Linked DNA regions of Homo sapiens: region 1 is linked to region 2. The links come from fine-mapping of genetic effects on gene expression. A gene starts in region 2. The other region holds a variant in brackets. All regions are shown on one strand. Distances are from middle to middle.

Region 1 (15,911 bases), 66 kb before region 2:
AAAAATACATAAATTTTCATTAATTGCCATCTGACATACCTCTATAATATCCTATATGTTGGCTACATTTTCTTTGGTTGCCTCTCCAATATAACAACTTAAATTTTTTTTTTTTTTTGTAATTTTGTGTTTCTACAGAGAGGAGGGAGAGAGGATTCTCTCTTTCTTCTGAAATGGTTTATTGAAAAATACTTTTTAATTGGTAATTTAGTAAAGTTTCGTCTAGCATCATAACTGACTTTAGGTCATGTTGTTTCAATTATTAAGATTGTTGCCAAAGTTGTGAAAACCTCCATCAAGTTTCTTTCAGGACATTTTCAATTTTCTTGTACAATTAATTGTAAATCTTCTTTTAATTGATTCTCATTATCCATTTGTCATCAATGTTCTTTTGTAGTGGTACATTGTAAGTTTCATGCTTTCTTAGTTCAGTAATGTGTGTCAACTCAGCAAAAGTAAATATTTTTTCCACTGTGTCCATGATCTACTCCTTTTTATTATTCATTATTATTATTTTGAGACACAGTTTCACTCTCCTTGTCCAGGCTGGAGTGCAATGGCCCGATCTCGGCTCACTGCAACCTCCACTCCCACATTCAAGCAATTCTCCTGCCTCAGCCTCCTGAGTAGCTGGGATTACAGGCATGAGCCGCCACGCTCAGCTAATTTTGTATTTTTAGTAGAGATGGGGTTTCTCCATGTTGGTCAGGCTGGTCTCCAACTCCCGATCTCAGGTGATCTGCCAGCCTCGGCCTCCCAAAGTGCTGGGATTACAGGTGTGAGCCACCGTGCCCAGCCTATTGTTATTATTTTTAGACAGGGTCTCACTTTGCCACCCAGGCTGGAGTGCAGTGGTACCATCATAGCTCACTGTAACCTCTAACTCCTGGGCTCAAGTGATCCTTCTGCCTCAGCCCCCAGAGTAGCTAACTGGGACTGCACTGCATGCCACCATGCCTGGCTAATTTTTTTTTTTTTTTTTTTTTTTTTTTGCTATGGGGTCTTTCTGCCATATCTTATGGGCTAGAAAAAAATTTTATTTAAAAATAAAATAAAATAGATTTGGGGGTCCTTGCTATGTTGCACAGGCTGGTCTCGAACCCTTGGGCTCAAGCAATCCTCTCACCTTGGCCTCCCAAAGTGCTAAGCTTACAGGCATGAACAACTGTACCCACCTATTCCTTTTTAGTAATTGGATTACCAAAGACTCCAGAAGGCTATTTATACCTGCTTTGCAAATTTATCTTTTCCTCTTACTGAGTTACTGCTTTTGGAATGATCTGAAATTCTTTTGTTACCATTTTCTTCCATCGATTTTCTGTTGATTTCTACTGGTTTCATTGTTCATTTTTATGGCCTTTATTTTATGCTCTATTAAGCTTTAAATATTTTTTGTCAGCTATTTAATATATAAATTTAAAGGTAACAAAAGGAAATATGTAATTTCTTAATTGTTTTATTGGAAATCAGATGTCTGTCCTTCAGAGAGGCCTTGACCACTCAAATCATGGAGCTCTTCCCAGCACTTTTTAACCCTTGATTTGACTTTCTTTTCCTTTACAGCAGTTGATCTGATGTTAAATTACGCACTCACGTGTTTGTTGTCTGTCTCCTCCAGTTAGAAGCTAAGGAATTAGCTCCTTGAGCCCTAGAACATTGACAGATAAATAGATATTTGTAAAGTCAACGAATGAATGAGTTCCCTAAGTGCCAACCAGTGTCCACACTGTGATTTCTGTCCAGCTGCTTGACGCACTTCCAGGACTGGTAAGAGTCAGTGACTGCTGAGAATCCACAGTGCCCTGAACCCTACCAAAACGCCCCACCCCCATCTCCTTTGTACTAAACTGGGTCTCCATTTGTGACATCTTTTCCATTAAAAAAAAAAAATGTGTCCTGGAGTGGTGATCCCAGCACTTTGGGACGTGAAGGTGGGAGGATCATTTGAGCCCAGGAGTTTGAGAACAGATTGGGCAACATAGCGAGACCTTGTCTCTAAATAAATAAATAAATAAATAAATAAATAAATAAATATAAATTAAAAAGGGACAGACTCAGACTTTTTTGATAGATTATACAAGTTATTTCTCTCTCAACCCAAAGTCTCTGTTCAACCTATAGTTACTTTGCCTACTTTTATATTCTTAATATAGCATGATTTAACTTTCTGTATTATTCTTACCCCCCCTTAAACGAGTAACCCCATTTGCAGCCTCCAACTCAGCATATCCTAAACTGAATGCATCACGTCTCCCTGCACGTGAGCGGGTTCATCTTCAGTTGTTCAGCCACTCAGGCCATGAGTCCAGACGCATTCTCAGCAGTTCTCTCTTCCAATTGCTGCCCATTCTCCATCAGTCACTTATTTCTGTCATTTCTTTGATCTCCTCACCATTTCTTTCATGCTTGCATTTCTCTCCTTCCCCACAGCCAGCACCCCAGTCCAAACCCCTGTCTTCTCTCACCTGGATCAATCTCCTACTGGTATCCTCTACCAGTCTCTGAAATGGTTTGTTAAGACGCAGATATGATCTGGTCACTGCTCTGATTGAAACCTTCAAAGGCTTCCCAATGCTCCTGGGATAAAGCCCTCAATCCTTACATGCCCTGCCAGGGCATGCATGGTCTGCCCCCCTCTGCAAATTCATCTTCTACCTCTGCCTTCTCATTCCCTGCCCTTTTGCCACTCTGGCCTTCTCTGAGTTCTTCCAAAATGCCAAATTATTTCCTGGCTCAGTATCTTTGCACACTCTGTTCCCTCTGCATGGAATGCCCTTCCATCCCCTCTTGGCCTGGCAACTGATGCTTATCCTCAGTCTTAGTTTAAATGGCATATCCTCCAAGAAGCTTTCCTTGAACCGTGGGACAAGCCTGGGCCATCTGTTTTATTCTCCCATTGTGCACTGTACTTTTCCTTCTCAACATTTATCAAAAACATAAATAGGAAAGCATAAATAGGGCCAGGCACAGTGACTGATGCCTGCAATCCTAGCACTTGGGGAGGCCTTGGCAGGAGGATTACTTGAAGCCAGGAGTTCGAGACCAGCCTGAGCAACACAGTAAGACTCAGTCACTACCCAAATTTTGAAAAACTTAGCCAGGCATGATGGCTCAAACCTGTAGTCACAGATACTTGGGAGGCTGAGGCAGGAGAATGGCTTGAGCCCAGGAGATTGAAGCTGCAGCGAGCTATGATTGCACCATTGCACTCCAGCCTGGGCTACAAAGCCAGACCTTGTCTCGAATAAATAAATAAATAAATAAATAGTTACTAGTATAATTGGTCATTCAACGTCTGTCTTTCCTATTAAACTAAACTCTGTGAGGCAAAGCTGTCTATTACAATAACAATCGCTGAACACATCTATAGCTCTTCCTATGTGTTTGGGTCTGTTCTAAGCACTTTTTATGTATCATCTTACTGAATCCTCACAGTAACCCTTCAAGACAAATACTTTTTCTTTCCCTGTTTCATGAGTGAGGAGACTGAAGCACAAAGAGGTCAAGTAACTTGTTCAGGGATGCATAGCTGGTAAGTAGTGGAACCAGGATTCAGAAGCAAGCCGTGTCTCCCAGAATCCTAGCTTTTCCTACTTCCCTTATTGCCTTCCAGGTTTGTTGTGTTTCCCATTATGCCCCCAACATCCAGCACAGGACACATGATAGGTGTTCAATAAATATGGTGGAATGTATGTCTAAGCATGCATTTACTGAGAACTTACTAAGTGCAAAGCACTGTGGAGAAACCAAAAATATGGACCTTACCCTTAGCGACCTTTAACTAAAATCACGAGGAAAACAGATTTTTATTTATTGTTTATTTTTTACCTGACTAAGGAATACAGAAAAGGTTCTTAGAGGAAATGTTTTTTGGTGGTCCCCTGGGAACAGATAGATAGGACTCAAATGGATCTCGGGTGGGGGCAGGGGAGCAAGGGAGGCCAGATGCTGGGGAGGCGAGAGTGAGGGCTGGCAGCCCTGCAGGAATGCTCACTGGGAGGACTGGAAGAGCAAGGGTGGGGCAGAGGACACAGACTGAGGGAGCCCAGGGGAGGGAGTCAGCTCTACCAACTGGAGGAGGGGTCGGCCAGTCTGGGCCTCCTGTGATGAGTAAACAGGCGTTGGGGAGGAAGGGCTTTGTGGAAAGAAAGACCCACCTGTGCAGAGCATGCAGGCAGGAAATTGCAAAGGGTGTTCAGGAAACAAACGCATGTCCTGTGGGATATTAATGGGATTCTACAGTCAAACTCACTTGGGAAATTCTGCACTGAACAAGGTTAAACAAATGTCTTTCCTGCAATGTTCCTCAGAACCCTTAATATGTTAATGTGCATTGGGTCTACAAGGCAGGGGTATATGAGTGACATTTCCAAGAAAGGCTTATTAACTTGACAGCACATTAGTTAGAAAAGGGTGGCAAAAAAGCTGGCGGGTCAAACAGCTTGGGGCGGGTGAGGAGGGTCTGGGATGCCAAGCCAGGGAATATTCACATTAGCTTAGAGAGCACTGGAAGAATAAAAGATTTTTTAAGCAGGGTGGTGACGTAAGCCCGGCTGAGAGCTAGCAAGCTGCCTCCAAAGTCAGTGTGGGGATAGATGTGAGGAAGGAAAGAGATTAACGTGTTGATATAGTTTGGATCTGTGTCCCCACCCAAATCTCACATTCAATGTAATCCCCAGTTTTGGAAGTGGAGCCTGGTGGGAGGTGATTAGATCATGGGGGTAGGTTTCTCATGAATGGTTTAGCACCATTCCCTTGGTGCTGTCCTCTCAATAGTGAGTGAATTCTCCCGAGGTCTGGTCATTTTAAAGTGTGTGGCATCTCCCCCTGACCTCTTCCTCCTGCTTCGGTCATGTGACATGCCTGCTCCCCCTTTGCCTTCCGCCATAATTGTAAGTTTCCTGAGGCCTCCCCAGAAGCCGAGCAAATGCCAGCATCATGCTTACTGTACAACTTACAGAACTGTGAGCCAATTAAACCTCTTTTCTTTGTAAATTACCCGGTCTCGGGTACTTCTTTATAGCAATGCAAGAATGCATAATACATGTGTATTGTTGACTTACTCTGTTCAGCCACTGTGCTAGCACTTCAAGTATATAAGTGCATTTAATCTTCACAACTCTGCAAGGGTAAATGCTATTGTCCCTACTTTAAAAGTTGAGAAAACTGGCCAGGTGTGATGGCTCATGCCTGTAATCCCAACACTTTGGGAGGCCGAGGTGGGCAGATCACAGGAGCTCAGGAGTTCGAGACCAGCCTGGCCAACATGGTGAAACCCCACCTCTACTAAAATTACAAAAATTAGCCGGGTGTGGTGGTGGGGACCTGTAATCCCAGCTACTCAGGAGGCTGAGGCCGGAGAAGTGAACCTGGGAGGTGGAAGCTGCAGTGAGCTGAGATTGCGTCACTACACTCCAGCCTCAGCAACAGACCGAGACTCCGTCTCAAAAAAAACAAAAAAAAATTTGAGAAAACTGAGGCTCTGAGAGGCTGTGGGGCCACCTGCCCACCACTTATTGAAATATGTGTGTTAATTCACTGTGCCTCAGCATCTGTCTACTTGTGGAAATGAGCCAGCTCCTGAATCTAGGTCAGCCAGGGAGCAAAAGTGTGGGCCCGGCTGGGGAAGGAGCTCTGGGTGTGGGAAGAAGAGCTGGCTTCTGAGACCCTGAGCACTGTGGCCCTCTCCAGGACCTAAACCCTGGAACTAGCTGGGGCCTGAGGGAGCCGGGCATGTAGAGCTCCCCAGAGAGGCTGGAGAATTCACCCATGGATGACACAGGCATCCTCACCCCAACTCCCCATGAGAACAGAATCGGAGGCCCCATGGGCTGGCAGAAGGGACCTTGGCCTTGAAGAACACTTTCTTTGGTTCTCTCCCCTGCAATGCACTGCCTGAGAACTGACGGATGGCCATGGTTCCAGCCAGCTCTGCCACCAACCTGCCAGGTGATTACCTCATGTGTCAACAACATGATCCCTTTTGTTCCTCCCGGCTCTGAATGCCCTCTTCAGAACTCCTGTTCACACAGGTGCCATGTTGTGGAATCCTGGCTCTGGTCCTTCTTTCAGAAATTTTGGGAACTGGTTGTCATGTATCTGACAGATCAGCCTCATCTCATCTCACCTCTCACAACAACTCCATGGTGCCTCTGTTCAATGAGTATTTACCAACTCCCCACCCTTTGCCAAGTGCTGTCCTGAGAGCTGTGCTCACAGAGGTCCATCTTATGAAGCAGATATTGTTATGAACCCCATTTTTCTGATATGTTTGTTTATTTTAGAGACGAGGGGCCTCGCTATCTTGTCCAGGCGCGTCTCAAACTCCTGGCCTCAAGCCATCCTGCTCTCCAGCCTCCCAAGTAGCTGGAATTACAGGTATGAGCCATTGTGCCCAGCTACCCAGTTTTCCAGTATGGAACCTTGCCCAAAGTCTTGCCCTGGGTAAGACTTGAAATCAGGTCCGTCTACACTAACATCCCAGCTCCTGACCACCCAGTGTCACTGCCACCCATGTAAGCCCGGGCTCGGGACTGGAGCCCATGCCTGCTGGAGCAGGGATGGTGAGAGAGAAGGGGGCATGTTATGACCTCACTGTGCCCTGGGGTCATTCTTGGTTCTGCTACCTCCTAGCTGGGTCACATGGGGCAAATCATCTCACCTCCCTAAGTCTCAGTTTTCTCATCTGTGAAATAGCCCTACAGTATTTACCCCAAATATTTGTTGGGAGGATAAAATGACATCTTGAATATCAAGCCTCTTAGTACAGTCAATATTAGTTTCTCCATTTAAAAAATTTAATTTTCCCTAAAATAACCTGCCCCTTCTCATGCTCATTTCCAAAGGCTTGCAATGAGTGATCCAGAAACAAATGAATAAATAAAGGGATTTCCCAAATTCCCTGAACTCTGGTGTTGGAGTTGTGCAGCCTCATGTATCTTTATATGGCCTGCATGACATCAATGATGACTCACATTTCTTGATCATGTAATATGCTCTAGAAACTTTCCTGGGTGTTTTACACACACAGCTGTTACAGACCAGAGCTAGTTGTCTTTTGTTGTTGTTGTTGTTTTGAGACAGGGTCTTGCTCTGTCACCCAGGCTGGAGTGCAGTGGTGCCATCTTGGCTCACTGCAGCCTCGACTTCCTGGGCTCAAGTGATCCTCCCATTTCAGCCTCCTGAGTAGCTGGGACCACAGGCGCATGCCACCATGTCTGGCTAATTTTTTAATTTTTTGTAGAGATGGGGGTCTCACTATGTTGCCCAGGCTGGTCTCAAACTCCTAGGCTCAAGCAATCCTCCCAACTCAGCCTCCCAAAGAGCTGGGATTATAGCCGTGAGCCACTGAGCCCAACCAGAGCCAGGATTTGAACCCACAAAGTCTGGCTCCATGGCCTGTGCTCTTAACCACTCTGCTACTTTGTTCGGGAGGTCCAATGTAAACTTCTGTGTATTAAATTGTGAGATCCCAGAGGTCACAAACCATGCCTTATCTGGGATCCAGCATAGGCCTGGCCCTGAATGAGTTTCAGAAGATTCTTTCATTCATTCACTCACATTCACTCAACCAGTATCTCTGGAGGACCTTTGCAGGTCAGACTCTGTTCTAGGAGCTGGGGATACAGCAAGGAAGAAGGTAGAAAAGACCCCTGTTCCCATGGCAACTACTTCCAGTAGAATCCAGGGTTGCATGGCATTGAGTGACTGGGTGGCTGCTCTTATTGGGTGGTCAGGATGGCCCCTCCAAGGAAGGGATGTTTAGCTAGGACCTCAGTGATAACAGGGAACCAGCCATCTGAAAATCAGAGGGAAGAGCATCGAGATAGAGGGAACAGCAAGTGCAAAGACCCTGGGGTGAGAAAAAACTGGGCATATTTGAGAAACAGAAAGAAGCCCATTGTGGAGTGTTAGTTGGGGAAGGGAGACAGCAAGGCAGGGGCCACATCATGGGGACTTCATGAGCCAGAGGAAGGAGTTTTATTATGTTGTTCAAAGTGCAATAGGAAGCCGTTGGAAGGTTTTAAACAGGAAAATGACATAATCTGATTTTTAAAAAATTAATAGACTTTATTTTTAGAGTAGTTTCAGGTTTATAGAAAAATTGAGCGGAAAGTCCAGAGTTCCCTCTCACCCTCTACTGTGCATACATGCACACATATCACAATTTCCCTTAGTATTAGCATCCTCCATTAGAGGGGTACATTTGTTACAGTTGATGACCCAATACATTATTATTAACTAAAGTCCACAGTTTACATTAGAATTTGCTCTGTATTGAACATGAGTTTTGAATAATGTATGACCTGTGTCTACTATTATAGTAGCATACAGATTAGTCACACTGTCCTAAAAACCCCCTGTTTTCCAC[T/C]GATTCCTCCCTCCTCCCAAGGCCTTGGCAACTACTTTTTTTTTTTTTTTTTTTTTTTTTGAGTTGAGTCTTCCTCTGTGGCCCAGGCTGAAGTGCAGTGGTGCGATCTCAGCTCACTGCAACCTCTGCTTCCCGGGTCCAAGCGATTGTCGTGCCTCAGCCTCTCAAGTAGCTAGGATTACAGACACGTGCCACCATGCTTGGCTAATTTTTGTATTTTTGGTAGAGATGAGGTTTCACTATGTTGGCCAGGCTGGTCTCGAACTCCTGACCTCAGGTGATCTGCCTGCCTCAGCCTCCAAAAGTGCTAGGATTACAGGTATGAGCCACCGCACCTGGCCACAACCACTGATTGTTATACTGTCTCCATAGTTTTTGCCTTTTCCGAAATATCATAGATTTGGAATAACACAGTATGTAGCCTTTTCAGACTGGCTTCCTCCACTTAATCTGATTTTTTTTTTTTTTTTTTTTGAGACAGCATCTTACTCTATTGCCCAGGCTGGAGTGCAGTGATGCAATCATGGCTCACTGAAGCCTCAACCACCCGGCCTCAAGCAGTCCTCCCACCTCAGCCTTCTGAGTAGCTGGGACTACAGGCACATGCCACCATGCCTGGCTAATTTTTAAATATTTTGTAGAGATGGGGTCTCCCTAAGTTACCTAGGCCAGTCTTGAACTCCTGGGCTCAAACAACCCTGCCTCCATCTCCCAAAGTGCTGGGAGCACTTTGGGAGTGAGCCACCGCACCCAGCTTGATCTGATTTTTTAAAAGATCAAATTGGCTGTATCGTAGGAACAGATTGGAAGGGGACAAAAATAACAAAAGGAAGACCAGTTAGGAGACGAAGCAGTCATCCAGAGGCTCGATGAAGTGGTGGGCCAAGCTGGTGGGGAGAAGTGTGTGGACCCCAGGTGCACAGTGGAGACCCAACTTTTGGGAGCTGCTCATTGAGTGAGTGCAGGGGAAGGTCAAGGATAGGAATGATTGATGATTACATCGCCAGGGTTAAACCAGGCCTGCACAGAGTGGGGTTTTAAAGTGTTCATAGATATTGCTGTGGTTTTTAATCCCCTTAAATACTCTTGTTGTTCTCTTAGAAATTGAAGAATCAGTTCCAGAGAGATCTCCTGGAGGGCCTAGGATCACAGAGCAAAGCAGAAACCACAGCTGTCTCGGAGGACGAAACTCCAGCTCTTCACCCAGAGATAGTCGTGGGCTGGTGGCTTCAGGGCCCACTAGGGCCTTTGTTATGAGTTTTCTCTTCCCAGCGGTCCTTTTATTGCATAATCAATAAACCACTGACAGAAATAAAAGGCTTCCAGATATATACGCTGCTGATTCCCTGCCTGGAAAACCTTCCCCTCTGCCCTCCTTAAAACCTCATGGCTTCTTATTGCACATTGCACCCGGGGGGGGGATATCCACTTAGAATTGAATCTCAGTGAAACTGCTTGTTAACTTACCCTGACCTCTGAGTTAGTTCAGCTTATTTTGGTCTCAAGTAACTACCTTAAGGCAAAAACAAACAAACAAACAAACAAACCTGGGAGGGAGTGGTGGGATGGATATCTTGGGAGCTATGGAGGCACCACACAGACTGAAGGAAGAGGAGTTGAATCAAGGATCGTCTGAAGAACAGGTCTAGCATGTCTCCAGGGATCACTGCAGTAGAAGCCTGCTGCCTTCAGGGGACAAGTCTACCATGACCCCAGATGCTGCTTCGCTCCACTCCATTCAAACTCCCAGCAGGCCTTGGATGATTCCAGCTTGGTCAGGAGTGCCCCTCACCCACTGCTGAGATCAGTTAAGTCTTGGTGGGAGCACAGAACCACATGGTACAAACGGAGTGGGATGGGATCGTTCCAGGCAAAATCTTCATGGGAGATGAAGCTGTTCATGGCCCCCCAGCCAGTGTTGGTCATTCTGTCCCTGGTAACCCTATAGCTCAATCACAGCACTTCACAGATTGTCTTATAATTATTTGCCCCAGCTGGAATGCAGTGGTGCAATCATAGCTCACTTCACCCTCTATCTCCCCAGCTCAGGCCATTCTCGTCCCTTAGCCTCTGGAGTAGCTGGGATTACAGCACACACCACCATCCCCAGCTAATTAAAAAAATTTTTTTTCCTGTTGCCCAGGCTTGAACTCCTGGGCTCAAGTGATCCTCCTGCCTCAACTTCCCAAAGCTCTGAGATTACAGGTATGAGCCACTGCACCCAGCCAATTTCTTGACAGTGTATGTCACTTTCACTGGGCACTGGGTTCTTCCAGGATTGTGGCTTTGACTTACTTAATCTGTTATGCTGCAGGGGTGCCCCTGTTGCTGTTCTCCCTTCTTCTGCAGTAATTGGGACCTGTTTTTAGCAAGGCTAATGGCCTCCCAAAGTCCTGACGTGTCTTAGTCTAGCTTGCAGCTAGGGGTGTCCAAGCAACAAGGTTCTGGCCAATGCATAAGGAGGGAGGTGGTGTGAGCAACTTCAGTGAGACCTTTCCTGGAAGAAGCATGCCCTCCGCTTCTCCTCCTTACCCTGCTGGCTGGAACATAGACATGGTGGTGTACCCCATAGGACCATGTGGAAAAAGGTAACTCCCTAGAAATGCCAGAGCCCCCCCAGAGAGCGAGCCATGGTCCCTGACACCCTGAAGCTGCCACATCGGCTTTGAACTGCTTCCCCGCTGAATGTTCTGAGAGGCACTAAAACCTCTTTTCTCGTTAAGTCTTCCTGCAGCCTAATATAATCCATACTAATAGCCATGCCTAACATGCTGACCGACCTTAGTACGTGCTTAATAAATGATGGTTGAGTTATTAAATCAATGACAAAGAGAGAAATACTCAATGCCAGCATTTATCACATTGACACTGCATATTCTTTCTAGCTCCTCTCTACATACAGTCGATATTTTAACAGAGGTATAATTAGAGCAGAAATAGAATTTTATATCCAGCATTTCCCCAGTAATAGTAATTACGTAATAAACATTTTCCATGTCAAGTCCTTGTATCATCATTCTAAATGAATGTGTCATTTTCTTTTCTTTCTTTTTTTTTTTTTTTGAGATGGAGTCTCACTCTATTGCCTAGGCTGGAATGCAGTGGCGCGACCTCAGTTCACTGCAACCTCCACCTCCTGGGTTCAAGCGATTCTCCTGCCTCAGCCTCCTGAGTAGCTGGGATTACAGGCATGCACCACCACACCCGGCTAAGTTTTGCATTTTTAGTAGAGATGGGGTTTCGCCATGTTGGCCAAGCTGGTCTTGAACTCCTGACCTCATGTGATCCGCCCGCCTCAGCCTCCCAAAGTGCTGGGATTACAGGTGTGAGCCACTGATCAACCATAATTTACGTAACCACCCCGTTATTCTTCGGTATATACATTTTCCCCATTTTTCCTAATTATAGAGAATGCTACAAGAAAGTTACTTATGACTTTATGACTATTCTTTTGCCTTTTCCTTTTGACAAGTCCTTTGAGAATGGGATTGTTGCCTTTTCTAATATTTTAGAACTCTTTCTACCTTCACCGGCCACTCCTGTTTCATAATTGCCAATTAAATTGTGAACAATGGTCATGACGGGAATAACAATTACAGTAACAACAGCTGCTGGTTACTGATCACTGACTATGTAACCATATCATGCTAGGCACTTTTCATCTTTTTGTTTCACATATCCGCATATAGCTATACATACTTTCTCTCTCTCTCTCTCTCTCACACACACACACACAAGCATGGGAAGTGGTAGTTAAAAGTGCGAATTCCAAGGTCAGACTAAATTCAAATCTTAGTAAAACAGCTTCTTCACTATGAGACCCTGCATAAATTACTTAACCTCTCTGTGCCTCCATTTCCTCATCTATAAAATGAAGATAGTAATACTTTCTTTATAGGGTAGCTATGAGGACTAAATGAGATAACACAATAATAGCTGGCATTTCTTGAACACCTACTAGGTGCCAAGCACTATGCTAAATAAAGGCTTTATGTTAATTCACTTATTTCTTGCCAGATTATAGGAGCTAAGTATTTTCAGCCTCATTTTGCAGACAAGGCACCTGAAGCTCAGAAGGTAAAGACATACCTGCCCAACCTGCAGGGAGCTGAGCAATTCTCACCTGGGTCACACTGACCTCACAGTCCCAGGCTCCTCCCAAAAGGATTCTTCTCTTTAAGCAGTCTCAAACGCTCAATTTCTCCAGCATAATCTCTCCTTCCGCCCCCATTCCCATCCCACAAGGTGCAGCCTTCTTTCAGGTGTCCCCTCCCCGCCATCACTATTGCAGCATAGAATGCCACAGAAGCTCAGTTAGGAACAATCCCCATTTATCAAGTGCTTCCTCTGGGCCAGACCCTGTGCTTGGTGCTTTATATCATTATCTCATTTAATCCTCAGACAGTCCTGGAACATAAGCACCATTACCCCCATGTTACAAGTGAGGAAACCCAGGCCCAGAATGCTGGAGCAAACTGCCCAGCGTTGCAGGGTCATTGCATTCAGGAGCTGAGACTCCCAGTCAGGCTGAGAAATGCAAGTCTAGCATCTTGCCACCCTCACCCACAGCTGCCTGGGATGGTGGTTCCCAGGGGATGGGGAAGATCGTGTTGTGATGGTTCCAGATGGCCTGATGGTTCCCCCTGCCTGAGGGCAGCCATGCAGAGAGTGCCAGCACAGCGTCCACTAGAATCTCCCTGCCTCTCAAGGCCCAAGGCCCTAGGCCCAAGGCAGGGCCGAGATCCAAGGGAGAGCGGTCGGACGGGCTTTCTGTGCCGCCCCTGAAATAGCCAGCTCAGCTCCCCAGCTCCAGCTCTGCAACTGCAGGCGGATCCCGGAATAGCTCTTTCCTCCTGCAAGGTGACCTAGTTAGCAGGTTCCTCTTGTCATGTGAGGTTGGCTGAGCAAGACATTTACCTACCTCTGTCTACCCAGAAAAGCCTGATCCGACACTTTCCTCTCCTCCTTCCCCCGATGCTGTTCCTGATTCTCCCACGGTTCACTCATTCTAGAAGTCCAGGGAATGGATGATAATGCACTAAGCGTGGTGCTTCAGGGCCTCAAAGCATGTTCACAGACATTATCATACTTCCTTCTTACACCAGGCTTGGAGGGCGAATCTATTATCAACCCATTTCACAGCTGAGGAAATAAAGGTGCAGAGAGGGTAGGCAACATGAGCAAGGACACACGGCTGGGAGGAGGCAAAGCCAGGATCTGGACCCAGGTTCCTGAAACTCAGACCAGTGTCCCTGCAGTGCTTTGAGTTTCCCTGGTTTTATGCACCTCTCTGAGGAGCCCCAGTCACTAAGCCTTCCTCACCTATCCACTGCCTGTGTTGGACCTCCTGAACACCTATCTGGTTGTAGAACTGGGTGCAGAGGTTGAGATCAAGGACTTGGAGGTCCACCAGCCTCAGGGTGGAGCTGGGATTTGAGTTTCAGCATTTATCAGCTCTGTGGCCTCAGGCAAGTTGCTTTGCCTGCCTGAGACTCAGTTTCTATATCTGTAAAATGGGCATAATAATCATACCTGCATCCTAGGGTTTCTATAAGGATTAAATAAGATAGGGTACATAAAGTGCCCAGCAGCTTCCTTTCATTTTGCATATTTTTGATAAAATAGCTATTGTTGTCCAGGCACAGCGGTACATGCAAGTAATCCCAGCACTCTGGGAGGCCCAAGCAGGCAGAGGGTTTGAGCCCAGGAGTTTGAGATCAGCCTGGGCAACATGGCGAAACCCCATCTCAGCAAAAAATACAAAAATTAGCTGGGTGTGGTGGTGCACACCTGTAGTGCCAGCTACTCGGGAGGCTAAGTTGGGAGGATCACTTGAGCCTGGGAGATTGAGGCTGCAGTGAGCAGAGATCACTTCACAGCAATCCAGCCTGGGTGACAGAGTGAGTTCTGTCTCAAAACAAACAAACAAACAACAACAACAAAAAAACTATTGTTGTTATTATTATTGACATCCTGAATTTAACCCAAAAAGGAGAAGCTTAAGATGGGCTAGTGCCAATGAAGAGTTGCTGTAGTAAAGGTTGTTATGACTATTCCCATGCCATCATGCACAGGCCTGGAAGAAAGAGTCATATTGACAATAACACAACTCCAGCATATGGCAGTTTCTTCTGAAGTGTTGGCCCCTTGTTCCACTGGATGGCTGCTGGCTCCCTGTAGGAACCCACTGCAGGAGAGGAGAGAGGTGTGGGCAGCCTTGGCTGTCACCCTAGGGGTGCTTATTCACTCTGCAAGTGTCACATCCCACTGGCAGGGGGCATAGAGAAGTGCAGGGTGCCTACTCCGGTGATCCCTGGGTGCTGTGGGTCGTGCAGAAGTGAAGATGCGGAAGGAGATTAGGGGCAGGTCTGGGGACCCCTGAAGACCATGATCAAATTATGTAAAGGCAGAAGTGGCTGAGGGCTAGTGAGAACGAAGCTGGACTTGGGGGATCAGATGCTGCATTCAAATCCTTCCTCCACCACTCCTTATATGTGAGCCCACAGATAAGTTGCTTAACTGCTCCAAGCCTCAGTTTACCCATCTGTAAAAACTGGGCATAATTTGAACCTCATGGGAAGGTGGCGAGGCTTGGATGAGTTACCTACGTGTTGCACCAGCACAGTGATAGGCATGACATGGGGGCAGAGTACATGTTTGAGAATTTGAATTTGAAGTCTAGCCAAGCCCCAAGACCCAAGGTACCATCTTAGGAATTTGGAAGAAGAGATGAATGTGGTCTGGAGTAAACAAAGAAGGCTCCAGAATGATAGCATGACTGGCCTTGGGTCCTGAAATCTAAGTATAACAAGGATGCTGGAGAAGCTTGGGGAGGCCATTCAGACAAGAGGTCCAGTGGGAGGAATGGGCATGGCACACAGACAGGACAGTCGCTTTCCGTCACACCCCATGGAAGGTTTTTTTTTTTTTTTTTTTTTTTAGAAAGAGTCTCATTCTGTCACCCAGGCTGGAGTGCAGTGGCACAATCTTGGCTCACTGCAGCCTCAACCTCCCAAGCTCAAGGGATTCTCTCACCTCAGCTTCCCAAATAGGTGGGACTACAAGCATGCGCCACCACGCCTGGCTAATTTATACATATAAATACACATTATGTATATACATGTGTGTATATATGTGTGTATATATGTGTGTGTGTGTGTGTGTATACATATACACGCACAAAACTGTAGAGACCAGGTTTCACCATGTTGCCCAGGCTGGCCTCAAACTCCTGGGCTCAAGCAATCCACCCACCTCAGCCTCCCAAAGTGTTGGACCATGCCTGTCTCTCAGAAAATTCAAACTCTTCACCATGGCCTTTCCTCTGTGACCTCTATTCCCAGCCCTTCTGGTCACCGCACTCACTCTACCTCAGTGGCCTGGTCACTGTGCTCACTCTACCTCAATGGCCTCCTCGCGGTTCCCACACACATCCTCTTCATCACGCCCTATTCTTTTGACTTGTGTACAGAGCACTTAACATACTCTGGTACTATACAATTTGTCATTTGTGTACATGTTTATTGCCTGTCTGCTCCAA
Region 2 (15,911 bases):
TGAGTCCCAGTTTCCTCCTCTGTGTAATGGGAACGATAGTAGTAACTATTCATAGGTTTATTATGAGGATTAAATAAGACAGTATCTGTAAAGCATGCAGGCCATGTCTGGTATACTGTATTCAGTAAACATTAACTAATGTTATTCTTGTTACAATCAGATGCTGTAGCCTCAATCTTTTTAAATTTTTTTTTTAATTTTTTGAGACTGGGTCTCACTTTGTCAGCCAGGCTGGAGTGCAGTGGTGTAATCATGGCTCACTCCTGGGCTCAAGTGATCCTCCTGCCCCAGCCTCTCCAGCAGCTGGGACTACAGACATGAGCCACTGCGTCCAACCTGTAGCCTATTCTTCTCATCTGAGCCTCAGGTACAATGGTGCAGATCACCAGCTGGGGTCTCTTAGAGGACATGGCCCTTGGGGGATGTGGTAGCAATATCTCCTCTCCTCTGCAACATAGAGAAAAAGTGGCAGAGGAGACAAATTCTGCCTGCCAGCCAGCCCAGACCTCAGCATCAGAGAAGCCACCAGGTTTGGGTGTAAGTCGGCTAAGCTGCCTGGGGGGTTGGAAGCCTGGTCAGCTATGGACCAGGAAACCAGCTCAGAAGTTCGAGAATGAGGTCCTCCCCACACCCTCTCATGAGACCTCCAGTCTCAGTCAACCTCTAGACAGTCCCTTGCTGAGTGCTGGAAATGCGGCAGTGGACAAGAGCAAAACCCAAGAGGTAGCAAATCAAGTGTCCACGCCAGTCAGGACCTGAGGTCTTTGAGGGAGGTAGAAGCCACCTAGGATGGGTCCTCCGGTGTGTCCTCAGAAGGGGGACTGGACACAGGGAGGGAGAGGAAGGGACTGCACCCTTGCCCCGCAGCACAAGATGGAGCTCAGGGCCCAGTGCCTTTCCTTGGTCAATGCCCACCTGGGCCAAAGTCTACTATGGTCCTGTCTACTCGTGCTTGTAAAGGTGTGGCTTAGGGTAAAAGCAGCTTAGGTCAGTGTGAAAGGCTCTGCTCCAAGGGCTACAAATGTTGCCTCCACTCCTGATTCCACCACACACACACCGCAGATATACACTCCACATACATACCTCAGCAATTCCAACCATTTTCTGGGCCTCAGTTTCCTTCTCTGTCAAAAAGTCTTTGCTCAAATATAAGGACAGTAAGGATAAGGATACTTACTATAAGTCTTGGGATTACAGGCATAAGCCACAAGGATAGTAAGTTTTTCTGTGCCTAATTTATTCATACAGTCAATGCTTATTAAGTCCCTACTATGTGTCAAGCACTGTTCTGATGCCTTGGAAAGACTGTGTAGAGCAAGATATTCAATGCCTGTGCTCTCTGGGAGCTGACCTAGTGGTGGGGAATCATTCTCTGAAATACAGTCATGAGTCACTTAACAATGTGGATATGTTCTGAGAAACATGTTGTCAGGTGATCTTATCATTGTGCAAACATCATGGAGTGTACTTACACAAACCCAGACGGCACAGTCTACTATGCACCTAGGCTATGTGGTATAACCTATTGCTCCTAGGCTACAAACCTGTACTGCATGCTACTGGGCTGAACATTGTAGGCAACCCTAACACAATGGTAAGTATTCATGTACCTAAACACAGAAAAGGTATAGTAAAAATATGGTATAAAAATACAGTATAGGACAGGCACAGTGGCTCACGCCTGTAATCCTAAGACATTGGGAGGCCAAGGCGGGTGGATCACTTGAGGTCAGGAGTTTGAGACCAGCCTGGCCAACGTGGTGAAACCCCATCTCTACTAAAAATTAAAAAATTAGCCAGGCATGGTGATGCACACCTATAACCCCAGCTACTCCATAGGCTGAGGCAGGAGAATTGCTTGGACCCAGGAGGCGGAGGTTGCAGTGAGCCAAGATTGTGCCACTACACTCCAGCCTGGGCAACAGAGAGAGACTGTGACTCAAAAAAAAAAAAAAAAAAGAAAAAAGAAAAAAAAAGAAACAGTATAAAAGATTTTAAAAAACTGGTACACCTATATAGGGCACTTACCACAAGTGGAGCTTGCAGGACTGGAGGTTGCTCTGGGTAAGTGAGTGAGTGGTGAGTGAATGTGAAGGCCTAGGACATTATTGCACACTACTGTAGACTTTATAAGCTACACTAAATTTATAACAAAGATTTATTTCTTTAATAATAAATTAACCTTAGCTTACTGTAACGTTATGTACTTTTTAAAACTTTTAAACTCTTTTGTAATAGCACTTAGCTTAAAACACAAACACATTGTACAGCCTTTCCTTCTTTCACTTTATTTATTTGTTTGGGACAGAGTCTTGCTCTGTTGCCCAGGCTACAGTGCAGTGGTGCGATCTTGGCTCACTGCAACCTCTGCCTCCTGGGTTCAAGTGATTCTCCTGTCTCAGCCTCCCAAGTAGCTGGGATTATAGACACGCACCAACATGCCTGGCTAATTTTTGTATTTTTAGTAGAGACGGGGTTTCGCCATGTTCGCCGGGCTGGTCTCGAACTCCTCACCTCAGGTGATCCGCCCTCCTGGGCCTCCCAAAGTGCTGGCACTACAGGCATGAGCCACCGTGACTGGCCCTCTTTTTTTTTTTTTTATGACAGGGTCTCACTCTGCCACCTAGGCTGGAGTGCCATGGCACAATCCTGGCTCACTGCAGCTTCAACCTCCTAGGCTCAGGTGATCCTCCCACCTCAGCCTCCCAAGTAGCTGGGACTACAGGTGCATGCCATCATGCCTGACTAATTTTTTTTATTATTGGTAGATACAAGGATCTTGCTATGTTGCCCAGGCTAGTTTCAAACACCTGGGCTCAAGTGATCCTCCTGCCTCAGCGTCTCAAAGTGTTGGGATTACAGGCGTGAGCCGCCACACACAGCCCGTTTTTGTTCTTTATATCCTTATCCTATAAGCTTTTCTCTATTTTCAATATTTTTTTTTTTACTGTTTTTGTTAAAAACTAAGACACAAACACACACATTAGCCTGGGGTCAGGATCATCAATATCACTGTCTTCCACCTCCACACCTTGGCGCACTGGAAGGTTTCAGAGGCAGTAACATGCAGCTGTCATCTCACGTGATAACCGCCTTCTGCAATACCTCCTGAAGGACCTGCCTGAGGCTGCTTTACAGTTAACTTTTTTTTTTAAGTAGAAGGAGTCCACTCTAAAATAACAATAAAACATATCATAAGTACGTAAACCAGTAACATAGTTGTTTATCATCATTATCAAGTGTACTGTACATAACTGTATGTGCTATACTTTTATATGACTGGGGGCGCAGTAGGTTTGTTTACACCAGCATCACCACAAACACGTGAGGAATGTGTTGCGCTATGACGTTACAGTGGCTACAAGGTCACTAGGTGATAGGAATTTGTCAGCTCCATTGTAATCTTATAGGACCATTGTCTTGACCCAAATGTAATGCAGGGCATGACTGTATGGTGGTGGGTGCTAAGGACAGAAGCAAAACAGAGTAAGGGGACAGAATGGATAGAGGGTGGTCAGGGAAGGTCTTGTGGCTGTCTGAAGGAAGGGCATTCCAGGCAGAGGGCACAGCAAGAGTCCTGAGAAGCAAATGTGCTTGGGGCATCCAAGGAGCCTGGAGGAAGCAGTTTATGGAAACTCTAGAAACAAATGAGGTCTGACCATAGCAACACTTTCAGAACAAAGGCCAGATCATGTCACTCCTCTGCCAAAGTCCTTGCAAGGCCTCAATGCAGTTGGCCTCCCTGCTACCCTCCTAGCCCCACTGCACTCTGTCCACACTCCCTTAGGGCTGCGGCTCACCCTTGCCTAAGGCTTCCCCCTAACTCAGAGGTCCTTAATCAGAATCACCCGCAGGGCTTATTAAAACACAGATGCTGAATTCCAGCCCAGTTTCTGATTCAGAAACTGATTTGAGTCTGGTGTACGGTCCTAGAATGTGCATTTCTAATGGGGTCCCTGGTAAGGCTGACACTTCAGGACTTGTTGCTACAGTTTTAGAAGTGCTGCTCCAGCGTTCTCTCTGCTGATACGGCTTTTTTTTTTTTTCTTCTTTTAAAGATAGAGTCTTGCTTTGTTGCCCAGGCTGGAGTGCAGTGGCACCATCTCGGCTCACTGCAACCTCTGCCTCCTGGGTTCTGGCGATTCTCCTGCCTCAGCCTCCTGAGTAGCTGGGACTACAGGTGCGTGCCACCACACCCAGCTAATTTTTGTACTTTTTGTAGAGACGGGGTTTCACCATGTTGGCCAGGCTGATATCAAATTCCTGACCTCAAGTGACCTACCCACCTCAGCCTCCCAAAGTGCTGGGATTACAGGCGTAAGCCACCACGCCCAGCCCGCTTTTGCCCCAGATACCCCACTTAATACTACAACTTGCTCCCCTCCTCCCCTGCACCCCAACCTCCTTCCTACTCTATTTTTCCTTTTTTTTTTTTGTCTTTTCTCTTTTTTTTTTTTTTTTTTTGAGATGGAGTCTCACTCTGTCGCTGGGGCTGGAGTGCAGTGGCGCTATCTAGGCTCACTGCAACCTCCGCCTCCTGGGTTCAAGCAATTCTCCTGCCTCAGCCTCTTGAGTAGCTGAGATTACAGGCGTGTGCTACCACACCCAGCTAATTTTTGTATTTTTAGTCGAGACAGGGTTTCACCATGTTGGCCAGGCTGGTCTCAAACTCCTATATCAGGTGATCTGCCTACCTTGGCCTCCCAAAGTGCTGGGATTACAGGTGTGAGCCACCATGCCCGGCCTAAAGAACTTCTTAAACATTAGTTACACACACATTTTTTTTTAAATGGAAAATCATCTGGTGGTGCAATGGCTCCCAAATGCTGGTGACCTAAGACCAATGATGGCAGAATAATTTTTTGTTTGTTTTGTTTGTTTTTTTTTGTTTTTTGAGAGAGGGTCTCCCTACATCACCCGGGCTGGAGTGCAGTGGTGTGATCATAGCTCACTGTAGCCTCAACTTCCCAGGTTCAAGTGATCCTCCCACCTCAACCTCCCAAGTAGCAAGGACTACAAGTGCACACCACCATGCCAAGTTAATTTTTTATTTTTTCAGAAACAGGGGTCTCAAACTCCTGAGCTCAAGGGATCTACTTACCTCGGCCTCCCAAAGTGCTGGGATTACAAGCGTGAGCCACTCACCTGGCCTGCTTGTTGATTTTTTTGAGACAAGATCTCTGTCGCCCAGGCTGGAGTGCAGTGGTGCCATCATGGCTCACTGCAGCCTCCACCTCCAGGGCTCAGCTAATCCTCCCACCTGAGCCTCCTGGGTAGCTCAGACTACAGATACATGCCACTATGCCCAACTAATTATTTAACTTTTTGTAGAGACACGGTCTCACTATGTTTCCCAGGCTGGTCTTGAGCTCCTGGGCTCAAGCAATCCTCTCACTTTCATCTCCCAAATTGGGCAGATTTTCCGTCTTTATCAAAGCCCCCACTCACCCACCCCTTACCCCCCACATCTCCAGATAAGTGTGAGGCATGGCCAGGTTTAAGAATTTCTGTGAGAAGCCTTACCTGTAGAGAAAGATTCAGGAGAATAAATTCCAGGGTGTAGCTTTTTACACTTTGCAAAAATGTGACCACACCCATGGTCATTTATCACTACCCACAAGCTCTCAGGCTGACCAGGCAAGATCACCGTCTCCCTTTCACAGAGCAGAAAGCTGAGGCCCTGGGGAATCAAGTAATACTCCCCGCTCAACACTCAACAGTCACAGCTGGTTGGTGGTGGAGGTCACACACCTGTGGGTGGCAGAGATATGATTAGAACTTGGGCCTCTGGCTGGGCGCAGTGGCTCATGCCTGTAATCCTAGCACTTTGGAAGCCTGAGGTGAGAGGGTCACTTGAGGCCAGGGATTCGAGATAAGCCTGAGGCCCTCCTCACTCCCCCACGCCGCCCCTCCCCCCCGCTCCCTTCTCTATTTAAAAAAATAAGAAGAAAGAGGGAAGAAAAGACCTTGGGCCCCTGAATTCTCACTCTAGGGCTCTCCCCTCTACATCAACTGGATAAACCCAAGTTCCAGGAAGTCCCAAGGATGCCACAGGTCGGGGGAAGGTCAGAGAAGGGAGAGAGAGTGTCAAATGCGTGGAGGGTAAGGTTCTGGGAGGCTGTCTCCTGGCCACAGGAAAGACTCCAGTTGCCCTAAGGACTTGGAAAACACATGGCATTCACACGCTAACTCTGGCTGCCTGTGACCTCAGGACAGCCACTTTCTCTTTGTGTGCTTCTCCTTATCACTGAAATGGGGCTGATAATCCATGCCCTGCCCCCAACAAAATACTTGTAGAATGTAAAGCACTTTAAAAGTCCAAGTTATTATTGCTGTTATCAAGAGAAGGCCCTTTGGGACAGAACTTAAATAGCCTTGGCCGGGCGCGGTGGCTCACGCCTGTAATTCCAGCACTTTGGGAGGCCGAGGCGGGCGGATCACGAGGTCAGCAGATCGAGACCATCCTGGCTAACACGGTGAAACCCCGTCTCTACTAAAAATACAAAAAAAATTAGCCGGGCGTGGTAGCGGGCGCCTGTAGTCCCAGCTACTCGGGAGACTGAGGCAGGAGAATGGCGTGAACCCGGGAGGCGGAGCTTGCAGTGAGCCAAGACAGCGCCACTGCAGTCCAGCCTGGGCGAAAGAGCGAGACTCCGTCTCAAAAAAAAAAAAAAAAAGAACTTAAATAGCCTTTCTTTCATCTAAGGGACACTTTTGAGCATCTACCACATACCAGGCACTGTGCTAGGCACTGTGCACACATGCCCTCACTTACCCCTCACAAAGGGTCAGTGCTGCTGTTCTTTACCTTTTACAGATGAAGAAACTGAGGCTCAGCTGAGAGTTGCAATTCATTCCATCATTAGTTCATTCACTCAGCTTTTACTAAAAGCCTGCTCTGGGCCAGGCTCTGGGCCAAGTGCTGAGAAGAAGAAGATGAACAAGTCCTTCAGGAGACGTGCCCATAAATTAATAACAACTAAGTACATGCTTCAACAGACAAGGTGCAGTGGGAACTAGAGGGGGAGCAACAGGCTCTCCTGGGGGTTATGGGAATGGACAGCTGACCTCCTGCGGGGACCCTGCACCGCTAAGGTGCATGCGCCCTGTGTAGCTGTGCAGTCTCACTTTGATCAAGGCTTTGCTGTGTATTTCCAGGAAGCCTCTTCCGCCACTGAGCCTCGGTCTCTACCTGGAAAGTTAAAAGGTTGCGTAGGCCTGACATCCTGCAGCTCTTGGGGGGCCTAAAACTCTGGCCCTCCCACCCCACCTTCTGGTCAGTTCAAGCTCTACCCCAGCCAAGTCCGATTCCGAAGCCCTGAGGGCCAGACCGAATCCCTCCGAAAGTGCCAAATACCCCGCCCCAGGGCGGTGCTCAGAGCCTGGGGCGTGGCCGGAGTCCCAAGGGGCGGGGTTCCAGTGGGAGGGGCGGGGCCAAGACCTAGATGCAGGCGTGCGCGGCCCGCCCAGAAGCGTCTCGCCCAGCCAATGAGCGTCCGAGGGCGGGGAAGCCCCGCCTCTGGGTATAAGAATACGCCGAGCCCAGCTACGCGACGCGGAGGTTTCGGAGCACTACAGGTTGCGGGCCTTTGTGACCCCAGGCTGCGGCCGCAAGGTGCGCAGTAGTGGGCTGGGCCGGGGCACCAGTCGGGTTTGGTTTTGCTCCGCCCGGCCGAGCTGCAGGGACCGCACGGTGCCCGGGTCTCCCGCCGCAGAGCAGCCGCTGGCCCGGGCCGGGGGAGCCGGCGCTGACCACCGCGCGCTGTCCCCGCAGGCAGCCGGCCTGCCGCCATGGCCGACCACCTGATGCTCGCCGAGGGCTACCGCCTGGTGCAGAGGCCGCCGTCCGCCGCGGCCGCCCATGGCCCTCATGCGCTCCGGACTCTGCCGCCGTACGCGGGCCCGGGCCTGGACAGTGGGCTGAGGCCGCGGGGGGCTCCGCTGGGGCCGCCGCCGCCCCGCCAACCCGGGGCCCTGGCGTACGGGGCCTTCGGGCCGCCGTCCTCCTTCCAGCCCTTTCCGGCCGTGCCTCCGCCGGCCGCGGGCATCGCGCACCTGCAGCCTGTGGCGACGCCGTACCCCGGCCGCGCGGCCGCGCCCCCCAACGCTCCGGGAGGCCCCCCGGGCCCGCAGCCGGCGCCAAGCGCCGCAGCCCCGCCGCCGCCCGCGCACGCCCTGGGCGGCATGGACGCCGAACTCATCGACGAGGAGGCGCTGACGTCGCTGGAGCTGGAGCTCGGGCTGCACCGCGTGCGCGAGCTGCCCGAGCTCTTCCTGGGCCAGAGCGAGTTCGACTGCTTCTCGGACTTGGGGTCCGCGCCGCCCGCCGGCTCCGTGAGCTGCTGAGGGCGGCCGGCGCCCGCCCGGCGTGCCGGAGAGGAGAAAGGGCCCGACTGCCCGCCGGACCCTGCACCCAGCGACTGGGCCCCGCGCGCGCCCTCCGCGAGGGTGGAGGCGGCGGCTGTGTGCGCAGGGCCCGGCACCGGACTGGGACCCTGGCGTCCCTCCAGGCCTTGCCTCCTGCGGGAGGACAGTTTGGCTTCACTTCTCTGACCCCAGCCTCGGCCGTAAAGTGAAAGAGACCGGACCAGCTTCAGCTTTCGGACTCTGGTTCTTGGATCGTGTCCTCTCCCCCTCGCCGCCCTCTTCCCCCAATCTGAGCCATTGCAGGCCTCTGCCTGCTGCCCCCTCTCTCCTCGGGATCGGGTCCCCAGAGCCACCATCTCCTGAGCCTCCCACCCCGCTGCCTGGGCCCTGTGGTTGCTGGGCCTCCCACCTCAAGGAGGGGAAGGTTGTACAGCCCGAACCCGTGGAGCAATGCCCTGTCTGGCCTCCAAAACCAAAATAAAACTGGGTCACTTTACAGTCTTGCCGTTTTCATTTCCTTATCACCCCGAGCCCTGACTATATTTAGCTTCCAAAGTCCCAAGGTTGCTGAAGACACTGGATGGCATGGGGGCCACAGTCCCCAGCAGTGCCCAGGAGAGGAAACCGACAGTTTCTTTCAAAAATATCTCGTGGGTTGTGCAATTGTTATGTCACAACCTGGAGGGCAGAGGCTGCCACTGGGTGGTGGGGTAACCCACTGGGCTTCCCAGCTCCTAGGGTAGGGTGGGGGGAGCTTGGTGCTCTGCCAGAGAGGAGCTGGGTGGCACCGAGTTCAGACAGCCTAGCTTTGGACCCTGACTCTCTCCTTTGCCCAAGACACCATCCGTTCTGATTTTTGAGGCGGTTTCCCAGAGGGAGATGGTCCCCGTCTCCTCAGGTAGTTACGCTGCCTTTAGCACAGTGCCAAATACCTGGGCAGTTCTCAGTAAGTGACGGCAATTATTATTCTACAAATTGGTGCTGATTTTATTCCAGGCCCTGTGTCAACCTGGTGCATGTTCTCATGGAATCACAGCCCAGGTGGGAGGAGGTGGGTGATAGGCCTGAAAACAAACTAATCTTGCTGCAAGGAAGACTGTGATGAGTTCTAGAAAACAGTGCTAAGCAGCACTTTGGGAGGCCGAGACGGGCAGATCACGAGGTCAACAGATCGAGACCATCCTGGCTAATATGGTGAAACCCCGTCTCTACTAAAAATATAAAAATTAGCTGGGCATGGTGGTGCGCGCCTATAGTCCCAGCTACTCGGGAGGCTGAGGCAGGAGAATCGCTTGAACCCAGGAGGCAGAAGTTGCAGTGAGCCGAGATCATGCCACTGCACTCCAGCCTGGCAACAGAGCGAGACTCCTCAAGAAAAAAGAAAATAGTTCTGGGGGGGATTGTACAGCCAGGACAATAGACCGGCCAAGCGGGCACACCCAGAGAAGGGAGCAGTTTCAGCTATTAATAGTTGAGGTTGGGGTCAGTTCAGGCTTCAGGGAAGCGGTGACATTTGACGTGATGAACAGAGCCTTGAGTGATGAATATGTTTTTAGGAGAGGAGCCTGTTTCAAGGCAGGAAGGCACACAAGTACGATGAATGTTTGGGGAAGGTGTGGGGTGTCTAGAAGGTACAAGAAAGGTCGAATGGCTTTACGACAACTTCGTGAGGCAAGCACAGTCCTCATTCTACACATGAGGGTTGTGGAGTGTGCCCAGGCCTGGCAGGATTTGGCCTCAGAGTCCTGAGCACCAGCGTGAGTTCCTGGCCACCCTCTGCAGTTCACTCTGGAAAAATCCCTAGGTGCTTCTGAGATGTGGGAGAAAAGCTGGGAAAGAGATTGAAGTCAGGGAGGAGGCCGGGTCAGAGACGCTGCGGTGGTGGGGCATTCTCTAGGAGAGCATGGATTCCAGGGACACTGGAGGGGAACACCAGGCTGAGACCTTCTGTCCCCAGCAGCTGGGCTTGACTCTCAAGCCAGGCTTTTTTGTGGATGTGACCCTCCACCAACCTGTGAGTTCTCCCAGGACCTACTGTGCTCTGAAGCTACCAGGATGGAATGTGGCTGGTGACAGGAGGTGTTTGGCAAATGAATAAAGGTCTCCCTAAGATCATGGGATTTCTGGGACAGGATGAAGAGAGAAAGGAAGAGAGCCTTCTGGGAAGGGACTGGCCTGAGCTCTGGGCTCAGAGGGGCTGGCATTTGCCCACCCCACCGCCCCGCTGCTTTGCCCAGAACCCCAGGCCAGAGACAGAAACCACAGGGCTGAATTAGTACAGGAGGGTTTGACCCTGAGCTGAACACTTCCCTGATTCTCTTCTCTCTCCCCTCAGTTTCCACACCAGTAAAATGGGGCTAATATCCCTGCCCTGCTACATTACAAAGCAATAACCCTCACAATTAGTAAGGAACAAATTCAGAGATGGGTTGATAAGCAGTTGGCAAACTCTGAAGTGCTCTCCATATGGAAGGGATTACAACGAAAACCCCAACACCTGCCTCTTTCCAGAGTTAAGGGGGAAGCGGAGGAGAGAGTCCAGCTGCTGAGCTCTTCCCTCCTGCATCCCTCCAAAAGGGACTGCTGACAAGTTGGACAGCAGACAGATGGACAGGGGAGAAGATGAGGCTGGGGCATCCCACAGCCTGGATCCCCAAATCCCTGATACTGTTTGGAGGCTTCTGACCCTACCATCCCCTACCAGGGGAAGAGAGAGTACGTGTAGAGACAGTGAGGAGAGCAATGGGCTTGTCGTCTGACAGCCTCAGGGTCCAGTTCAGAAGCAACTCTTACTAGCTGCCTGACCTCAAGGAAGCCACCACACCTCCCGCATCTTGGCTCTCCTAAGATAATCACACGAGCTTCCGTGGTGCCAACAGGGTGTCGCTCATGTCTCCCCCAGGGCTGCCTCCTAAAGCAACCTGTTGCCAAAGGGTGCTGTGGATTTCTCTCTTATACCTAGGCTGGATCTTGGGGGTCAGAAATCAGGCTTCCTCAGGGTTGAGAACTGAGTCATGACACAAGTCATTTTCCCATCCTTTTGTTGTTGTTGTTTTGTTTTGTTTTCCTATTCATATGAAAGTTTCCAGGCTGATGTTCTTTATTTTGAATTATCTTTTGGTTGACTGGATTTTATCAACAAGCTGTCATTTGTGTGTGTGGTTTTTTTTCCTTCAAGAAAAGTATAATTTCCCTTGAACTCATCTCTACAATGGGAATGCTAATAGTACCACCCTGCAGAACTGCTGTGGAGATTAAACAAGTTAGTGCAGGTAAAGTATTGAGAGCAGTGTGGTTTGTAGTAAGTGCTGTTATCCCTGATAACAGCACTTTTTGGAGATGCCTTTGTATTAGAATATTAGAAAGGCTGTGTTTTAACCAGCTAGAAAGGGGTTACTCCAACAAGCAACACTGTTACAGGTGGGGTTCCCTGGGAAGCAGACTCTGAGATGACATTCAGCTAGCAAGAGGTGTATTAGGGAGTGCCTTCAGGATCAGCAGCTGCAGAAGGGAGGGGACAGAAGGAGCTAAGAAGCTACAAAGCAGGCCCAGCAGGAGCCTCAGCCAGCCCCGCTGGGAGCTCTGGAGCTAGAAGGGCCCTTCAGAGTTGGCCTGAGTTGGACCATTTTAATCCTTTATACTCCTGCCTCCATCAGTCACTGGATGTGAGCCACCCAGAGAAGTGGTGTGACTGTGGGCAAGGCAGCTGTCCCCAGCTAAGCTCATCCCTGGAGGAGCTGCCAGGGTACGGCTGTCTACCAACAGCAGCACTCCTGGGGGCTAGAGCAATGATTCCTTTTCTTCTCTTTTCTTTTGTTCTTTTTTTTTTTTTTTTTTTTGAGACAGAGTCTCACTCTGTCGCCCAGGCTGGAGTGCAGTGGCGCGATCTCTGCTTACTGCAACCTCTGCCTTCCGGGTTCAAGTGATTCTCTTGCCTCAGCCTCCTGCATAGCTGGGGTTACAGGTATGTGCCACCGGACCCAGCTAACTTTTGTATTTTTAGTAGAGATGGGGTTTCACCATGTTGTCCAGTCTGGTCTCCAACTTCTGGCCTCAAGTGATCTGCCTGCCTTGGCCTCCCAACGTGCTGGGATTACAGGATGCACCACCGTGCCCAGACTAGGGCAATGATTTCATAGAAGGGGGCTCTGGGCGGCACATCACAGTGTTCACCACAAGCACTGGGGTGGGGACTCTGGTTCCCAACAGCAAGGGACTCTTTAAATTTATGCCCTGGGTATCTCTTTTGCCTCACCTTAGTCTCAGACCTGACCAGCACCTTCCCCATTACAGAACAAAAACAACAAAATGTAAATGTATCAACCTTACAGGTTTGATGTGATGAGACTCTATACAAAATACCCCACACATGGTAGATTCTCAATAACTGAGCGCTGCCATCACTATCATAATTGTCATTGTCATCATCATCGTCATTGTCATCATCATTATCATCATCGTCATTGTCATCATCATCGTCATCACTCCAGGTCAGATAAGTGTTCAACAGTCATTTATCGAATAAATTAATGATCAGTCTGATCCTAGCCTTTTCCCAGGCAGCTTAAGTGGTTTAGCTGATTACTAAGTAATCCTCTTGAATTCCTTAATCCATCGTGGCCTAACTCTTCATGCCACCCTGTTGTTAGAAGTGCTGGGACAAGATTAGTGCCAACTATAAGACCAAATAAGTGCTTACTGAGTGGCTGCTGCGTGCAGGCATGGTGGGAACTGACGGGGAGTGCCCAGTGGCACTCTTTCTTTTCCAGTCTCTCTTTAATCACCGCCCAACCCTGTAAATAGCACTGCTAGGTAGTTTATCCCCATTCCAGAGGTCAGAAAACTGGGGCACTCAGAGAATTACTCCAAGTCACACCTCAGTAAGAGGTGAGGTGAGCATGTCCACCCCACCATATCCAGGGCCTGTCCCCTTCCCAGGCTGGATCTGGCCAAGGACCTGAGCCTGGGTGGGATAAGAGCAGAGTCCCAGAGCTGATCTGCCACTCTGAGGCTGTGAATTGCAGAGGAAGTTACTGGGCCTCCTTAGGCTTTGATTCCTTCTTCCATCCAATGGAGAGAATAATTCCAACATCTGAAGAATGTGTGTGCAAAGATTCACATGAGGCTGGGTTTCTGAGAGCACACTGCAAGCAGTGCAGTGCTGCCTGGCCAAAGTGGGTTTGTGGCTGAACAACCATGGCCCTTATCCTGTAGCTGGTCTGGGAAGAGGACACCTGCATATACTTTGGGGCTTGAGATCTGGCCAGCCTGGAGCATGCAACGTAGAGTCTCATGTTGAGGGCTCTAAGGAGGCACTGCTGAGCAGCTCAGCGTCTGGACGGCCCTGAGGGCTGGTGCTGATAAAAGAGTGGGATGTGGGTCAGCTTGGGGAGGACACACAGGTTGGGGGACTGGGCATGAGTAAAGGCCCAGGGCCCAAAGTGTGCCCTGATGGATAGAAGAAATAAAGGAAGCTACTCTGAGTGCAGTCCCCTCGTCTGTCAAATAGAGACACGATAAGCTTCTTGTGAGAATGAACCAAGGTGATGTTAAGTGCCTGACCCGTGAGCTGCTCAGGTGGAGCTGTGGCTGGGAAATATGACCACAGGGACGAGAAGGACAGAGCCCTGCCCCACCCAGCCTCCAAGTGCCTTCCCACCCTCAACTCCAGCCACCCCAGGCTCCTCATGCACGATGTTCCTCGTGCCGCCAAGCCTCTGTTCCTTTGCCTGTGCCATTTCCTCAGCCTGAAATGCCCTCCATAGGGCCTTTTCCACATCCAAAGGCCTATTACCTTGTGTGTCAGAGTCGCTGAGGGGTCTTTCTCCACCAGACTGTAAGGCTCACCATCGCCCCCTGTGTGGCTCAGAGGGCATTAGGAAGTGCTGGGCCAGGCATGGTGGCTCACACCTAGAATACCAGCACTTTGGGAGGCCGAGGCAGGAGGATCACTTGAGTCCAGGAAAATTTTAATACATTTTAAACTTAAAATTTCATTTTTTATTTATGAGGTGTAGTTAACTCTAAGGTTGGCAAAACAAATTTTCAAAATAATTTTTTAAAAATAAAAATAGTCTGGGCGTGGTGGCTCATGCCTATAATCCCAGCACTTTGGGAGGTCGAGGCAGGTGGACCATTTGAGGTCAGGAGTTCGAGACCAGCCTGGCCAACGTGGTGAAACCCCATCTTTACTAAAAATACAAAATTAACTGGGTGTGGTGGTGGGTGCCGGTAATCCCAGCTACTTGGGAGGCTGAGGCAGGAGAATCACTTGAACCCAGGAGGCAAAGGTTGCAGTGAGCTGAGATTGCACCATTGCACTCAAGCCTGGGCAACAAGAGCGAAACTCTGTCTTAAAATAATAAAAATAAATAAATAATAAAATAAAATAAAATATTATAATCCTATTTATATAAAAAAGAGATGTGTATTATGTATATGTATGTAACGTATGTGTAGTATAATGGAATCGTGTGTGTTTGAAAAGTCTTGTGTGGGGGTGGTCTGACTTTTTACTCTGTGCTTTCTACATTGTTTGAAAATTATTTTGTCTTAAGCGTATATTTATTTTGACCAAAAACATGTGTTTGTTTGAAACAAAACGATTGGCTCACACCCTTTCTTGGGCTAGGGCAGTCTGCTGTCTGATGTGCCCGTTTTATGGCAAAGCCCTAAGCCTGAGCTCCTCTGTGGGAAGAGGCATACAAATGAGCCCCGCTGGAGACCACCCTCTAATGGGCTGTGGAGGACTCCCTGCTCCATCCCTGGCCACACTTCTGCTTCACGGAGATACCTGGACTTGATGTTCGTGGATATCTACCCTCCGTGACTCTACAAATGAGAACAATCCCCAGACAGGTGCGGTGGCTCACACCTGTAATCCCAGAACTTTGGGAGGCTGAGGTGGATGGATTACTTGAGGTTAGGAGTTCGTGACCAGCCTGGCCAGCGTGGTGAAACCCCGTCTCTACTAAAAATATAAAAATTAGCCAGGCATGGTGGCGGGCGCCTGTAATCCCAGCTACTCGGGAGGCTGAGGCAGTAGAATCGCTTGAACCCAGAAGGCAGAGGTTGCAGTGAGCCGCGATTGCGCCATTGCACTCCAGACTGGGCAACAAGAGCGAAACTCTGTATCAAAAAAAAAAAAAAAAACAACGCCTTAGAATCTTGAGTGTCACACAGACTTCAATGGGTCCTGCGCTCAGCTCCCTATTTTAGTGGGGGGCGGGGGCGGGGGGGCGGGGTGCCATGTTGCCCAGACTGGTTTCGAACTCCTGGGCTCAAGTGATCTGCTCGCCTCAGCCTCCCAAAGTGCTAGGATTACAGGCAGGAGCCACTGCGCCCAGCCAAGCTTCTGGATTTAAACGAAGGACAGGGGTGGTCCGGCTCTCCTCAGAGACGTCTGTGGAGTGGTGCTTCTGCCCCTAATGAGACAGCAACACAGACAGACGAGCAGCAGGGCCTGAGAGACTTGGCGTCAGACCTGGGCTTGTCTCTCAGGCCCTGCTGCTAGCTTGAGTCTTTCAGGCCCTTCTGGGTTTGAA

Which allele goes with the higher level. Positions count from the first base shown, and alleles are read on the strand shown. Sizes are in standard deviations (SD) of each study's normalised expression.
For the expression in monocytes after R848 of the gene that starts at base 7,556 in region 2, C is the high allele of the variant in region 1 and T is the other (moderate effect, 0.54 SD a copy in Quach 2016).

The links. PIP is the estimated chance that this variant, and not a neighbour inherited with it, causes the effect.
Region 1: its variant is fine-mapped to the expression of CITED4 in monocytes after R848 (Quach 2016, PIP 0.95). The same link has a PIP of 0.9 or more in monocytes after Pam3CSK4.

What each region holds. Positions count from the first base shown.
Region 1 is chr1:40,920,421-40,936,331 of GRCh38, reverse strand. No RefSeq gene overlaps it. Among named protein-coding and RNA genes, the nearest start is that of CTPS1, 51 kb to the left of the region's middle. The variant T/C (reference allele first, on the strand shown) is at 8,372.
Region 2 is chr1:40,854,008-40,869,918 of GRCh38, reverse strand. CITED4 (Cbp/p300 interacting transactivator with Glu/Asp rich carboxy-terminal domain 4) reads left to right here and starts at 7,556. Exons shown (of 1, transcript NM_133467.3): 1 at 7,556-8,865. The coding sequence starts at 7,792. The coding sequence ends at 8,346. It overlaps LOC124904157 (a long non-coding RNA gene), which reads right to left and starts at 7,535. Exons shown (of 3, transcript XR_007066025.1): 1 at 6,809-7,535; 2 at 5,524-5,751; 3 at 2,988-3,171. LOC105378676 (a long non-coding RNA gene) reads left to right here and starts at 12,425. Exons shown (of 3, transcript XR_947239.2): 1 at 12,425-12,857. RefSeq lists silencers at 1,248-1,542, 7,330-7,529, 7,690-7,769 and enhancers at 3,647-4,196, 4,197-4,746, 7,170-7,229.